Linked DNA regions of Homo sapiens. The protein of the gene in region 2 interacts with the protein of the main gene of each other region in a pairwise test. Each region holds a gene or a part of one and is shown on either strand. Other genes may lie near its edges.

The links.
Region 1: the proteins of GSPT1 (region 2) and HINFP interact in a two-hybrid assay, tested with the Homo sapiens proteins (one large-scale study listed by BioGRID).

What each region holds. Positions count from the first base shown.
Region 1 is NC_000011.10:119,131,258-119,134,072, reverse strand, and holds part of HINFP (histone H4 transcription factor), read right to left. Parts: intron 2,539-2,815; coding exon 2,427-2,538; intron 2,244-2,426; coding exon 2,091-2,243; intron 1,831-2,090; exon of another isoform or gene 1,776-1,830; intron 1,578-1,775; coding exon 1,500-1,577; intron 1,413-1,499; coding exon 1,292-1,412; intron 1,210-1,291; coding exon 1,071-1,209; intron 979-1,070; coding exon 854-978; intron 130-853; coding exon of another isoform or gene 1-129. UniProt on the Homo sapiens protein: Transcriptional repressor that binds to the consensus sequence 5'-CGGACGTT-3' and to the RB1 promoter. Transcriptional activator that promotes histone H4 gene transcription at the G1/S phase transition in conjunction with NPAT.
Region 2 is NC_000016.10:11,874,345-11,878,169, forward strand, and holds part of GSPT1 (eukaryotic peptide chain release factor GTP-binding subunit ERF3A), read right to left. Parts: intron 3,237-3,825; coding exon 3,063-3,236; intron 1,832-3,062; coding exon 1,742-1,831; intron 1,586-1,741; coding exon 1,417-1,585; intron 1-1,416. UniProt on the Homo sapiens protein: GTPase component of the eRF1-eRF3-GTP ternary complex, a ternary complex that mediates translation termination in response to the termination codons UAA, UAG and UGA.

The DNA.
Region 1 (2,815 bases), on a different chromosome or scaffold from region 2:
GGAGCATAAAGGGCAGCAAACCCAGGCAGGGGGATACAGAAATGGCCGAGGCTGGCAAAGTAAGGAACAAACATGAGGGATGGAAGAAGTCCTGGAATCCAAGTGACAGGAGTTGAAGACAAAAAAGGTCTTTATTGGAATATGTAGAAGAAAAGGCAAGAGGGAAAGATCATTACTCAAAATGGAAAGTTTTATATAGAAACCCAACCAGAAAAACAGAGACTGACTGACTGTGTTGGAGGGTGAAAGTGTCAAAGGATTTATGAGAAGGCCTTGGAGCTAAGGATCAGAACCCTTAGACTCTAGCTCTAGTTCCAGCTGCAGGACTTTTTGGCACCATTTATTGGGTTTGGCACCATGCCTTACAAGATTCAAAAAACAGAAAAATAAGCTTTGCTCCACCATTATTCTTAGGATTCTTTGAATCTAAATGGAAATGGCAGACATAAAACCACCATCAAATTAAGGTTTTATTTATTTATTTATTTATTTTTGAGATGGAGTCTCGCTCTGTCACCCAGGTTGGAGTGCAGTGGCATGATCTCAGCTCACTACAACCTCCGCCTTCTGGGTTCAAGTGATTCTCCCACCTCAGCCTCCCAAGTAGCTGGGACTACAGGCATGTGCCACCATGCTCAGCTACTTTTTGTATTTTTAGTAGAGACGGGGTTTCACCATGTTGGCCAGGCTGGTCTCGAACTCCTGACCTCATGATCCGCCCACCTTGGCCTCCCAAAGTGCTGGGATTACAGGCGTGAGCCACCGCGCCCGACCCAAATTAAGGTTTTTAAAACTGGTTGAAAAGGTATAAAAACAAGTGTGTTAATCTGGGAAGGAGGGTTGAGAGACATACCGAAAACGGGGATGCCCTGAGGGCCACTTGAACTGGTGCTTCTTGCGAAGGTGCACGGTGAGGTTGTTGCCCCGTGTGAAGCATTTGTCACACACATGACATTTGTACCTTGGCTCAGAGTCTCCCTGATGGGGAAGGAAGGGAGAAATGAGACCAGCTCTTCACCCCAGGGTCCCCCATACTTCCACTAGTCCTTCCCAACACCAGCCCCACTCACTTCATGTACTTTGCGGTAATGGGACTTGATAGAGCAGAGGGATCGGGCACTGAAGGTGCAGTTCTCAAAATCACACCTGTAGGCTGGCTCCTCGCTGTGGGTATCCAGGTGCTTCTGGAGGTCAATAAGATTCTTGCAGCTGCCATGAGAAATCAGGAGGGATTGGAGGACATGGGGAACACTGGAACATGAGCTGTTTTCTGGTCCCTGGTCCCCCTTACCTGTAGTCACAACAGTCACATTTAAAGGGCCGGTCCTCACTGTGACGAAAGCGCATGTGGTTGCGGAGGGAGGAAGGCAGCGGGCAGGTCATGTCACACAGAGGGCACTTATAGTGATTCACTGAGAGAAGCAGAGAGGAGGCTGTGATGTGAGAACTTGTGGAACCTTGGAGGGCAGGAGGGAGGCTGTGGGCCGCAGGCCACTCACCATGGTTGCGCATGTGGTCCCGCAATAGCCGCTCTGTGGCAAATCTCTTGGAACAGTGAGAACACTGGAAGTGCTGCTCTGGGGTGGGGCAGGCAGAAGAAAGGAGGGCTGTAGGTGATAGTGGAGAGGCACAGAAAGGAGAGGGGAACCATCCCAGGCAGAAGGGAACCACCCAAGGAGAAAAGGAGAGCTTAGGGAGCTATGAATGGACACAGTATCATGGAAAGAGCATGGGACTTAGAGAACCTGAGTTAGAATTCCAGCTTCACCACTTACTAGCTGTGTGATCTCAGGTAAGTGATTTAACCTCTCTGAGCCTCAGTTTCCTCATCTGCAAAAAGGGGGATAAGAAGCCTACCTCATGGGGCTGTTGTGAGGATTCCCTAAGTAACTGATACGAGGTACAGTAAGTACTGAATAACAATGCCTACGAATCTGAATCAGCAAAGAGACTATGGGAGGTGCCTGAGCCCAAAAAGAAGAGGCAGCCAAAAGGCAGGTCTCTTCAGTGGCCACCCCCACTAGAAACATGCCCCTAACCCATTCCAAGCAGGACAGCCTGCATCCACCCCACTTCCTCTGACTACTTACGATCCAATGAGGTCTGGCGACGGATGTGATCTAAGAACTTGGTATTGTTGGCAAACATGCCCCCACAGGTGGGGCAGGCTACCACTTTCTCCTGGGTATGGCTGCGGAGGTGCTCTCGAAGTTTACTGCGGTCCTTGAAGGTGCAGGTACAGCCTGGGAAGGAAGCCCTATCAGTCTCCTGCCACAAAACCCCAGTTTTGCCTAGGATCTGGTACCCCTGAGTCTCTCCAGCCGGCAGTCAACCTTGCCCCTGTAGGACCCCTATCCCTTTCTGTCCCAGCTCTTCAGGAACCCCAGCGTTTCCTCCAGAAGCCACAAGTTAAGAAGCAGCCCTACCTTTCCAGCCACACAGCACCACCGGGTTGTCCTTGCCGACTGCTTCGTATTCACAGCACAGACTGTGTGCTTCCACATGCCGATAAAACCACTCAGGATTGTCGAAGGAATTCTGTGCCAGGGGCAACTTGGGGTGAGGACTGAGGGTGGGTAGAGGGACTCACCCCTATGTGCCCGAAGAATTCTTGGCTCTCTCCCAAATTAACTTGATGGGGATGGGAAATTTTGAGGAAAGGCACTGCACAGAAATGGAGGAGTGGCCGGGTGCGGTTGCTAAACCCTGTAATCCCAGCACTTTGAGAGGCTGAGGCAGGAGAATCACTTGAGGCCAAGAGTTCGAGACCGGCCTGGGCAACACACCCAGACCTTGTCTCTACAAAAAATTTAGA
Region 2 (3,825 bases):
AATCACCACTGACTACAGTGCAGTGAACACGTCCTTCTGGTAGTAATCCTGTGGACTGAAAGGATACAAAACCCATTGGGTCTTGTGGAAAACCTAAAAGCCAAGTTAGCTTTTTTTTTTTTTTTTTTTTTTTTTTTTTTAAAGCCAAGTTAGCTTTTAGGAAAAAATAATTCTAGGGTTAAGAATTCCTGCTACATTAATTGCTTTTCTTCTGTCTTCCTGATTTTATCAGGTTCTGAGTGGTAAACTAAAACTATCATTTTGTTATATTAATAAGATAAACCCAATAACCAGTTTTACTATCAACCAGAAGAGTTCTGGGCCTTTAAAGTAAAATAAACACTGTCTTTATACAATTTCATCCAATGTAAAGTTCAGGAACTGTATTCATCACCAGGGCTTAGCACAGTTCCTGACACTTTGTAGATACAAAGTAGTTTTTGCTAAATGGAATTGGAATGAACATGTGAAATGACTATTCTGTATTTCAATGGAACTATAAAGTTTTATGTAAAGTCTTCTATAGTCTTAAAATGGTTATCTAAGTTAGAAATATTAACAGCTGGGCCGGGCACGGTGGCTCACGCCTGTAATCCCAGCACTTTGGGAGGCCAAGGCGGGCGGATCACGAGGTCAGGAGATCAAGACCATCCTGGCTAACGTGGTGAAACCCCGTCTCTACAAAAATACAAAAAATTAGCCAGGCATGGTGGCAGCACCTATAGTCCCAGCTACTCGGGAGGCTGAGGCAGGAGAATGGCGTGAACCTGGGAGGTGGAGCTTGCAGTGAGCCAAGATGGTGCCACTGCACTCCAGCCTGGGTGACAGATCGAGACTCCATCTCAAAAAAAGGAAAGGAAAGGGAAGAGGAAAGGGAAAGGGAAAGGGAAAGGAAAAGGACAGGAATATTAAAAGCTCATAAGGAAACGTTTCATAACAATCATTTTGTTTTTATGCCAAAGAACTTCATGACCCCAAGATGGGAATGTTAGTTGTTCTGCGTCACCCAGAGGTAGGCAGAAATGGATGCACACAAAAGGTCACAAAGATTAGACCTCTGAAAAATTAGGTGTAAAAAAAAAAATCAATCTCTATGTTCCTTTTAATCGCTAGACATATTACAAAGGATTACATCATAGAAATATCTTAGTAAACAAAATAGCCCTCCAAATCCACTACTCACAAAACATCAAAATTAAGATTCTTCACGTAGAGCATTACTAGATTTGGCATTACTACTAAAGCACGTGGTCAATTCTGTTCAATACATTCAACTCATAAAACACTCATACGAATAAGAATGTGAATCGAAGTTTTCTGTGAACCTGTTGCAATGTGTACTGTACTGAGATGATGAAGATGACCAAAGCTAGGTATCCTGGATATACTACTAGACGTCAGTTTAAAAGCTCTTACCCTCATCTCTTAAGGTGAAACGACCCATCTGAGGGAAGTCTTTAAAGGTCTCAAGGCAGATGGTTCCTGCTGTCCTTAAGCGAGCAATGCATACTTGATCTTGTTTGACAAAACGGGGTCGGGTCTTACTTTTTTCTCCTGATTTTTTGTCTACCAAGCAGATTAAGGCCTAACCAAGAAAAGAGTATGAGAAAATCAGAATAATGCCAAATAAAATAATCTTTAAGAACAGGTGTAGAAATAAAAGTGCATCACTGTTGCTGATTAGAAATTATGAAGATAAAACAGTATTAAAACAGAAATAAACCAATTATCTTAAACTCACTGTTATTTCCACCTCCTCAATACAGGTATGAATATGCAGCACCGCATTATAGCCTGGGCAGATGATGGATTTGTGCTCTATAATCACTATCTGTCAAACAAACACACACATTCTTATCTTTAGCCTTAGGGTAAATAAGAATTCAATGTTCTCAAGCGCCATATAAATCCCAAGAATTAGTGTTACCATCTCACTAGGACATCAACTTAAGTGATTTTTGTGTTAGAGGTGATAGGTTTGTCTTACTAATTTTGTTCACAGGATGGGTCAGGCTGCTTGAACTCAAAGCATGAATTTCAGTATCTTATCCTGTATTTATCTTCTTGGCAAGTCCCTGGTCAACTTTCAAAATACGGCAGGCTGGCTGGGCGCAGTGGTTCACGCCTGTAATCTCAGCACTTTGGGAGGCCGAGGCGGCAGGGGGGCCGGGGGGATCACCTGAGGCCAGGAGTTCAGGACCAGCCTGGACAACATGGTGAAACCCTGTCTCTACTAAAAATACAAAACAATCAGCCAGGCGTGGTGGTGGGCGCCTAAATCCCAGCTACTCAGGAGGCTGAGGCAGGACAATCGCTTGAATCCCGGAGGTGGAGGTTGCAGTGAGCCAAGATCGCGCCACTGCACTCCAGCCTGGGTGACAGAGCAAGACCCCATCTCCAAACAAAACAAAAGACAGCAGGCCAACTTTCTTATCTGGGAAGACTTTCCTTATATTCCCCAAGGAACTAAGCTAATTTTTACCGCTCAGAAGCTACCTAGATGTAAACTTATCCAGCTTTATCCATTTCTCAATATCCAAGGTCCAGTAAAGTAAACAACCTTACATCTGGCATCAAAATCTAACTTGATTAGTTGTCATACCTTAGAAAAGAACTTTAAAAAATTCTGTTATTCACACCAGTCACTTACTCTGTCATTCTCCCAGGGAGGTTAGATTGTTAATAACAGGGAAACCTGTGTGATTTCTTGTCTGGAAAGCTATGTGCTGTCAATGAGCACATAAACCATGACTTCCACAGTAACTGTGCTCTGGTCAAAGTGAATATTAGATACTGTAGAATGTATCATCAGGAGATCAAACATAAAAAGGAACTTACAAAGAATACTCCTTATCCAGTAAGCACTTGTACCAGCTTGAAGACCTTGTATGAGGTGCCTATTGTGGTTATGATATATAAGTGGCTTATAATATTTCCATTCCCCTTCTCTACACTAAGATGGGTTAACTGGCATGTCACAAATAATCAGGACAAAAGGCACTGATATTCTAATTTCATTTAGACATTAAAACCCACTATGACAACAACAATAATTTGTTTACCTGGGCATCAAATGTGCGTCCAGAATGACAAAGATTATTAGGATCACAAAGTATAAACCCTGGAAGAATCTCCTCTTCTTCAATTCCTTTCAGTCTGATTTTGAGGTTTTCACCTGGGGCTACGGTATCAGTCTCTACATCATCGGAAAGTATTCCAAGAACTTCCACGTTGTGCTTTAAAAGAAAACAAGACTGGAGGTTTTCTGACACATTCACTGCATTACGCAACATAAAATGATCTGAATGTCTGTCTGCTCAATAAAGAGTTGCAAGATTTGACTGTAAACACTTATGTTTGTATGACATAAAATCTTAGCCTAGATATGATCAGCAAAAATCATATCCTAGAAGTATAACTGCCAATTAAAGTATTAACGTGTCACCTTTTAAATATCACATTCTAATCATTTCCAACTAGAACACTGTATACACTAGCATTTGCCTTTTTTTACCTTTTCAAAATCGAAAACACAATTTAATATTTGGATTTCAGTTTTATGGATATAATTTTTATTATTATGGAATTCTATGAAGGATTTAATAAACCTGTCTTCTATTACCTATCAATCTCCAAATATCGGAATTATGCACTACTTAAAAATTATTGAACTAAGCTTTAAAAGTCTATCAACTATTTAATGAATACATCATTTCCTTTTGGTGTAATGAAATGGTCTGGAATTAGATAGTGATGATGGCTGCATAGCATTGTTATTTTTTTATTTTGAGACAGAGTTTTGCTCTTGTTGCCCAGGCTGGAGTG